Linked DNA regions of Homo sapiens. The protein of the gene in region 1 purifies or fractionates together with the protein of each later gene. This does not show direct contact. Each region holds a gene or a part of one and is shown in the gene's direction. Other genes may lie near its edges. The genes, in order: SPRR2D and SFMBT1.

The links.
Region 2: the proteins of SPRR2D (region 1) and SFMBT1 purify together in Homo sapiens (affinity purification with mass spectrometry; one large-scale study listed by BioGRID and IntAct). This does not show direct contact.

Annotation. Positions count from the first base shown.
Region 1 is NC_000001.11:153,039,190-153,042,755, reverse strand, and holds SPRR2D (small proline-rich protein 2D), read left to right. Parts: upstream 1-1,635; 5' UTR 1,636-1,678; exon of another isoform or gene 1,679-1,684; intron 1,685-2,390; 5' UTR 2,391-2,409; coding exon 2,410-2,628; 3' UTR 2,629-3,024; downstream 3,025-3,566. UniProt on the Homo sapiens protein: Cross-linked envelope protein of keratinocytes. It is a keratinocyte protein that first appears in the cell cytosol, but ultimately becomes cross-linked to membrane proteins by transglutaminase.
Region 2 is NC_000003.12:53,039,421-53,043,245, reverse strand, and holds part of SFMBT1 (scm-like with four MBT domains protein 1), read left to right. Parts: intron 1-3,825. UniProt on the Homo sapiens protein: Histone-binding protein, which is part of various corepressor complexes. Mediates the recruitment of corepressor complexes to target genes, followed by chromatin compaction and repression of transcription.

The DNA of each region.
Region 1 (3,566 bases):
AATCACCTGGCCTCAGGGTGCTGACATGATGGCTCTATTTCTGTAGTGTCCTGGCCAGTGGTGATCTTGGCTAAAAGCTCTTCCTTACTGACAGGAGCAACAGCTGTTCTGGGAACCTAACCTACTTAACTGAGGGATGTGATGCTGGCTTGATTCAACACTCTGCCCTTCCTGGAGCACAGTTGGTGACTGCTCCAGTGATTTTGAGTCTTTCCTCTTCCTCATTCTCCTTTCTTCTTATTCACTTATAAAACCATGTTCTTGGGAAGCTTCCCGATTAATGGTCCAGATAAGGAAGCAGTAGCAACATCACTTTAAATGTTTAATATACAGTACTTAGAAAGGCTCACTGATTGTAGGAAGCATTTAAAAAAGTTGTGAAAGGACAATCACTAAATGCATTGACAACATATGTGTTAAGTGAACAATATGTACCAAAATGGACAGATGACAGGTATACATTGGGTATGAGTTGATAATCTAGCAGTTTGTGGGACTAGAAGGTTTATGGAAAAGACAAAGGAAGAACATGCAAACAAATTAAAAAACACTGAGAAACATCTAAAACCTGTTTGGAAATAGAGAGGAAGAATACATATTGGATTACCCTTTGTTTGTATTTTCCCCTTGAGTTAAACTTTAAGTGCTCTTACCTTCCTCACTCTGCACACCTACTTCTAATTATTTACATATGATAATGTCTATGCAGCTTGTTCTCTATAGGATGTTCACAGGGAACCATATATGCATGGTTCCATACATAGATTTTGAGTCAATACTTGTAACTTTAGTTTCCTTCTCTCCATTACTTTTTATAAATAAAAAGGCTGTAGTACACATCCTTGATGGCACCAAGTAGCAAACGTGCTGTGGAGACTAGATCTCACTCTCAAATCTGTCCTGGGATGCAAGTGCCTCTACGAATGTGGTGCAGAAGCTACAAATGTGGTGCAGAAGACAGCTTCAAAGAGGAAAGGAATATAGGTAAAAATCTGAGGTTTTATCTGAGAAAAAGGTGGCAAAGAAAATTTCAGTCTTGAACAGGGTCAGCAGATAGCACAATGTGGTCAGCCTGCAAACCCAGAGGTAAGTATTATTGTCCCCTGTTTATAATCCCAGGGAGGAGAGGTGACATGCCTGTTGTCATGGAACTTAGCAAAGAAAAAGCTTAGCTCAGGCCTTTGTTAAGTCTCTCCTTCCTTCTAGCACATTGGCCAACTGTATGAGGAAAGTAGAGGTAGAGTTGGGTTCATGTACAACAATATGGCATTCAGCTAGAGTGGATCAGGACAGGAAGTTTTATGACTCAGGGGAGGTAAGATAGGAAGGGATCATTGTTCCCAATCAAGAAAGAGAGCCCTTGACAACCGGTTAGAGAATCCCTCCAATTATCTCTCTGACGAAAGTCACTGAAACTGAGATCTAAGGCAGGTTCTCTGTGACTCATGAGCACTTAACCCAGTGGGGAGATCCCAGAACAGGATATTTCCTAGTTTGAGAATGCCTCTCATGCCAGATATGGATACATTTGCATTTTACTTTGGACATTGCTGGACCAGCCCAGTTTTAGGCAGTTCCACTTCCCACTGGGTGGGGCAGAACGTCCTATAAAGAGGTTCCCTGCTGCACAACTCTTAAACTCCTGGTACTCTAGCACCGATCTGCTTTGGAGAACCTGGTGAGTGTGAGTCCTTGAGTTCCTCAGTTCTTTGTGACCTGAAATATTGAATTTAATCTGAAAACAGCAAGTTTGGTTGATACAATTCTGTAACCATGGGTTTGATTCTACTTAGTAGATGGAAATTTAGATTTAGAGTACAGTGATATGCTATTTTAGCTTGTTTCTTGTATACAGTTAGGTGTCCATACGGACAGAGAAGTTAATAGGAAAGCTTTGAATTGAAGAAGAAAAAAGAACAAAGTATTTTTTCCCCATGTTTTCCTGGTGTCTTTTTCAAAGGTTTGTGTCTTAACAGGTGCCAAGAGCCTGCAATCCTTCCCAAACAGCCCTTTGTTCTGTGCTCAAGTCAACCCACTGGGACTTTACTACAGATAATGATAAGAGAAATGGCTTGTGAGATTGCTCATGGTATCTGAACTTGTCACTGCCTTTCCTAAAGATGTTATTTTCACAGAAATAACATGCTTGGTTCATTACTACAGAGATATTTTCTTTGGAAAAATTGTATGAGAAAACACAAGATTTCCCAGGGCCAATGAAGCAATTTGCTAAAGTGGAAGGGAGAAACGAAGTAGTCTTGAAAAGGCAGTTAAGAGTTTAAATAATTTCTTGGAGATGGGGAAATAATATTTCATGGTATTACATAAGCATTAGCTTCTCTCTCTGGAGGAGTCCCTTCCCACAAACACTGTTGTATCATTTCTTTCAGATCCTGAGACTCCAGCAGGATGTCTTATCAACAGCAGCAGTGCAAGCAGCCCTGCCAGCCACCTCCTGTGTGCCCCACGCCAAAGTGCCCAGAGCCATGTCCACCCCCGAAGTGCCCTGAGCCCTGCCCATCACCAAAGTGTCCACAGCCCTGCCCACCTCAGCAGTGCCAGCAGAAATATCCTCCTGTGACACCTTCCCCACCCTGCCAGCCAAAGTGTCCACCCAAGAGCAAGTAACAGCTTCAGGATTCATCAGGAGCATGAGAGGATAAGGATAATTGGCTCACCTCGTTCCACAGCTCCACTTGCATCTTCTCACCAAAGCCTTCCATGGATGCACAGGGAGCTTCTTTCTCCTTAACCTGTGGCCTGCCTGTGATGATCTGTGACAGCAAAAGATTCCCTTTCTGAGGCTGCCATACTGCCACTGTCCAGGTGGAGCTAAGAAAAGGAAGTCCTCAGCTGTGCCAGCTCCCAGAGCTTCGGAAGAAAGAGCAGCAGCTCTCTCCCTGGGAACCATCAGACAATTCTGTTGATGTGTTCTGTGTCTGTCTGTCACCTGGTCATGAGCTTCTACCACCTTTGCAATTGTCATTTATCTTTCACTCCCTGAATAAAGTATCTATGCATATATATTTGTGAATGGATCTTTTGTTTCTTTTAGAATCTGCTTTATTAGTAATATTATATGATTATTTGGATTTTGTTCTACCTTTCTCTGATCCCCAGGACCAGGATTTCACAATTATTGTTATCTGAATTTTGGGCCATAACAATGATTATTTTTATATCATTTTAAACCCCTTTTATTTTCCTTAATTAGTGTTTGATTGATTTGAAGAACAAATCAATCAGAATTTTAATCTCTTCATTTTAAAATGTGGAAAATAATATTTATATCACTAACTTATCTTAGGCATAAAATGGAATTAATATCAGGAATTCAGTTGACACAATTTCTGACATATCATTACTACTCATTTGATAGTAGTCTATTAGCAGCAGTACATCATCATTAAAACAGAACTATTATTTGACCCAGCAGTCTCACTATTGGGTATATACCCAAAGGAATATAAATCATTCTACCATAAAGACACATGCATGTGTATATTTATCGCAGCCGTGTTCACTATAGCAAAGGCATAGAATCAACCCAAAAGCCCATCAATAGT
Region 2 (3,825 bases), on another chromosome or scaffold:
CTTTTAAATATTCTCCACTGAAGCAAATGCTGCAACAATTTGCATTTCCTTCACCAATGTCGTCTTGTGCCTTTTCTTGTTCCTACTGTAAAGGAGATGGGTTAGATGTTGTAAGTGAATTCTTATTTTGTTAGTTCCTAACAAAGGCTTGTGTTTTTTACTGCAAAGATATCTGTGTGATAAAAGTTGGGAATGTTCTAAGGCCTGTGGTGTAGGGATCCATGGGGAATAGTCCACAAAGTTAAAAGGTTTTCTTTTGTGAAATGATTTCGCTGAATAATTCTGTCTTTCCCGTGTTAAGCTAGCCAGCCAACTGACTGACCAGCAACTAAGCTGGATTTGGTCACTCCACCCAAGATTCACAGCCTCATTAGCCAAGAGAGTAATTGATGACTTAGCTATTATTGATACATTGTTTCTTTTTGTGGCTCTTTTTAAATTTCTTGACTTTTATGTGATCAGATTGTTTAATTTAAAATCTATTACATTTTTAAGAGAAGCAACTAAAGAGATACACGAGAAACAAAATACACAATGAAAGGGAATTTCCTTTTTTTGCTGTTTTGTTGTAAACTCAGATTTTTCCTTTTAAAAATGATTGCTGGCTAGGCACAGTGGCTCACGCCTATAATCCCAGCACTTTGGGAGGCTAGGCAAGAGGATCGCTTGAGACCAGGAGTTCGAGGCCAGCCTGGATGAAAGAAAAGGGAGACCCTGTGTCTCCAAAAAAATAAAAAAATTAGCCAGGCGCGGTGGTGGGCACCTATAGTCCCAGCTCTTCAGGAGGCTGAGGTGGGAGGATCCTTTGAGCCCAGGAGTTCGAGGCTGCAGTGAGCTATGATTGCACTGCTGCACTCCAGCCTGGGTAACAGAGTGACACTGTCTCAAAAAACAAACCAACCAACCCAGTATGATTTGCCTATCCATAATCTTCCTGCTTCTGTAGTATACTTTTGCTTTCACAGTGATACCTAGACTGGGTTTAGCTGTGGAATGGTGGTGTAGCAGCAGGTATCATTTAACTCTAAAGTCTGTAGAAAAGATGAACTATACAAACTTCATTGGCTTTTTATTTTGGCGTCATGTTATGTTCACATTAAGTAAATAGATACAGTCCAAAAACCAAAAGGCCATTATTTAGGCAGACATTTTACATCTTTAATATTTTTAATGTTACATTTTTTCTCTTATAATTTTCCAAAATTTTGCTTTCTTGGATTATTTGGCTTATAACCAATATTTTGGAATAACATAAAATAAAAGAACTTGTAATGAGTAAATGATACAACTTCCTTATGGCAGAGTATTTTTCTTTTAGTATATAGCATTCGTTACCTAACTGGGATATTTTGTATTTGAAAATAATATTTCTGTATATACATAGTTATTAAATGGGATAAAAGTGTGTGGGGATTTTGGTTACTTGCGAGATTTTAAACCATTAGAGTTTGGGGAGTGGGATTTTGATAGGAGTCTCCCATTCTTCAGGGGATACTAACCTCATTGGAAAAGAATTTTTTTTTTTTTTTTTTTTTTTTTTTTTTTTTGAGACAGACTTTTACTCTTGTTGCCCAGGCTGGAGTGCAATGGCACGATCATGGCTCACTGCAACCTCTGCCTCCTGGGTTCAAGCAATTCTCCTGCCTCAGCCTCCCAAGTAGCTGGGATTATGGGCATGCACCACCATTCCTGGCTAATTTTGGTATTTTTAGTAAAGATGGGGTTTCACCATGTTGGTCAGGCTAGTCTTGAACTCCTGATCTCAGGTGATCCACCCTCCTTGGCCTCCCAAAGTGCTGGGATTACAGGCATGAGCCCCCGCGCCTCGCGGAAAATGATTTAAAATAGAAAGAATGTGGTCAGGTTGTTGCAGATTCATGTTTAAACTTTTCAAAAGGGGGAGGAAGGATAAGAACACTGACACATTATTAATAGAAAAATCATATGACTTCACTGCATAAGTCTTAATGATTTGATTGTAAACCTTTTCCTCTAACTCAGAGACACCTGAAAACGTGTATGTAATTATTCTTTCTTTTATTCAAGAGGATGTTTATAACCTTATTTAGTTCTCTTTTGTCTTCAGGCAGTCACTCAAGGAATTTATTTAAAAACAAAAAATAGGCCGGGCGCAGTGACTTACACCTGTAATCCCAGCATTTTGGGAGACCAAGGCAGGCAGATCTCTGGAGTCCAGGAGTTTGATACCAGCCTGGACAACATAGGGAAGCCCTGTCTCTACAAAAAAAAAAAAAAAAAAAAAAAAAAAAAAAAAAATTCAGGTGTCTTGGTGCATGCCTGTAGTCTCAGCTACTCGGGAGGCTGAGGCAGGTATATCTCTTGAGCCAGGGAGACAGACGTTGCAGTGGGCTGTGATCACACCCCTTCAGCCTGGTGACATAGCGAGACCCTGTCTCAAAAAAATAAATAAAAACAAAAAAAAAAGTAGTCTGTATATTGTGTGTTAAATGATGTGTTAAGTACCTGTTGAACTCTGTGGTTTGAACAGTTGAGTAACTTCAGTGAGCCAAGCATGTCACTATGCAGAGAGAGGCTATAAGGTGATATTTCCAACATGATGCACAGTACTGTGTGCATTGGGTCTTTTTTTTTTTTTTTAACTGGCATACTGGTCTGGTGCATTGGTTCTTTTTTGATGTTTTTGCTTAGTCTAGAGAAAGGTTAATTATTAAACTGATGTGGGGCAGATAGGGTTGTTAAGTGTCAGTATCTGTTTATCTGGGAAACTTGGGTTCTGTCTGAGATGGTATTTGGAGAGGATCTTAGATGAGAGTTGGAAGGTGGTTTGTTGGCAGTTGAAAGTGTGGGACAGTCACACATTTGGAATGACAACATGAGCTGGGATGAGAAATTTAGCAATTACTAAAATGCCTCAGGAGTTTTTCTTGCTGATATTCAATTTAAAGTGTTAGCCAACAAGTACTCAGATTTGAATTCCAAATTATTATTTTTTATACCCTGAAGAGTTTTTAAAAAAGCATTTGAGGTGGCTACTATGGAATATTTGCTCAGTAGTAAGGCTGCCCATGGGCTGCCACTGGTTCTTCATTTCTGTTCACATTAATTTGCTCCCCAGACTAGAGTGCTTTCCTGTCTCTCAGTTTTTTCTAGTGTTCTTTCTTAAGGATCGGTTCTTCTAAAATATGCTTTTTCTGTGTTAAAAATAGTATATGGTAATTTTGAATTGTAACTTTAAGATACCTTTTGGTCTCATTTTGACTTGCGTCATAAAATAACCCTCTTGGAGTGGTTAGATGGTGATCACACCAATGCACTTAGCATATTGCCTGTCTAGAACATAGTGATATATAATGAGGATATAAATTTTTATTATTAAAAATGTTTATATGTAACAAACCTGCGCATCCTGCACATGTATCCTGGAACTTAAATGAAATCAAATAAAAAAAAAGTATACCAAAATTAGCCAGGTGTGGTGGCGGACACCTGTAGTCCCAGCTGCTTGGGAAGCTGAGGCAGGAGAATTGCTTGAACCCAGGAGGTGGGGGTTGCAGTGAGCTGAGATGACATCACTGCACTCCAGCTTGGGCAACAGAGAGAGACTCTGTAAACGTATGGTTGTGGTAAGTTATATACATATAGCATGAATTGTACCATTTTAACCACTTTTACACGTACAGGTCAGTGGCATTAAGTACATTGACATTGTTGTGTAACCATTACCACCATCCATCTCTAGAACTTTTTTAATCTTCCCAGACTGGAACTCTGTACCCATGAAACAGGGATTCCCCAACTCCCCTCCTCCCACCCTAGACAACCACTGTTCTACTTTCTGTCTTT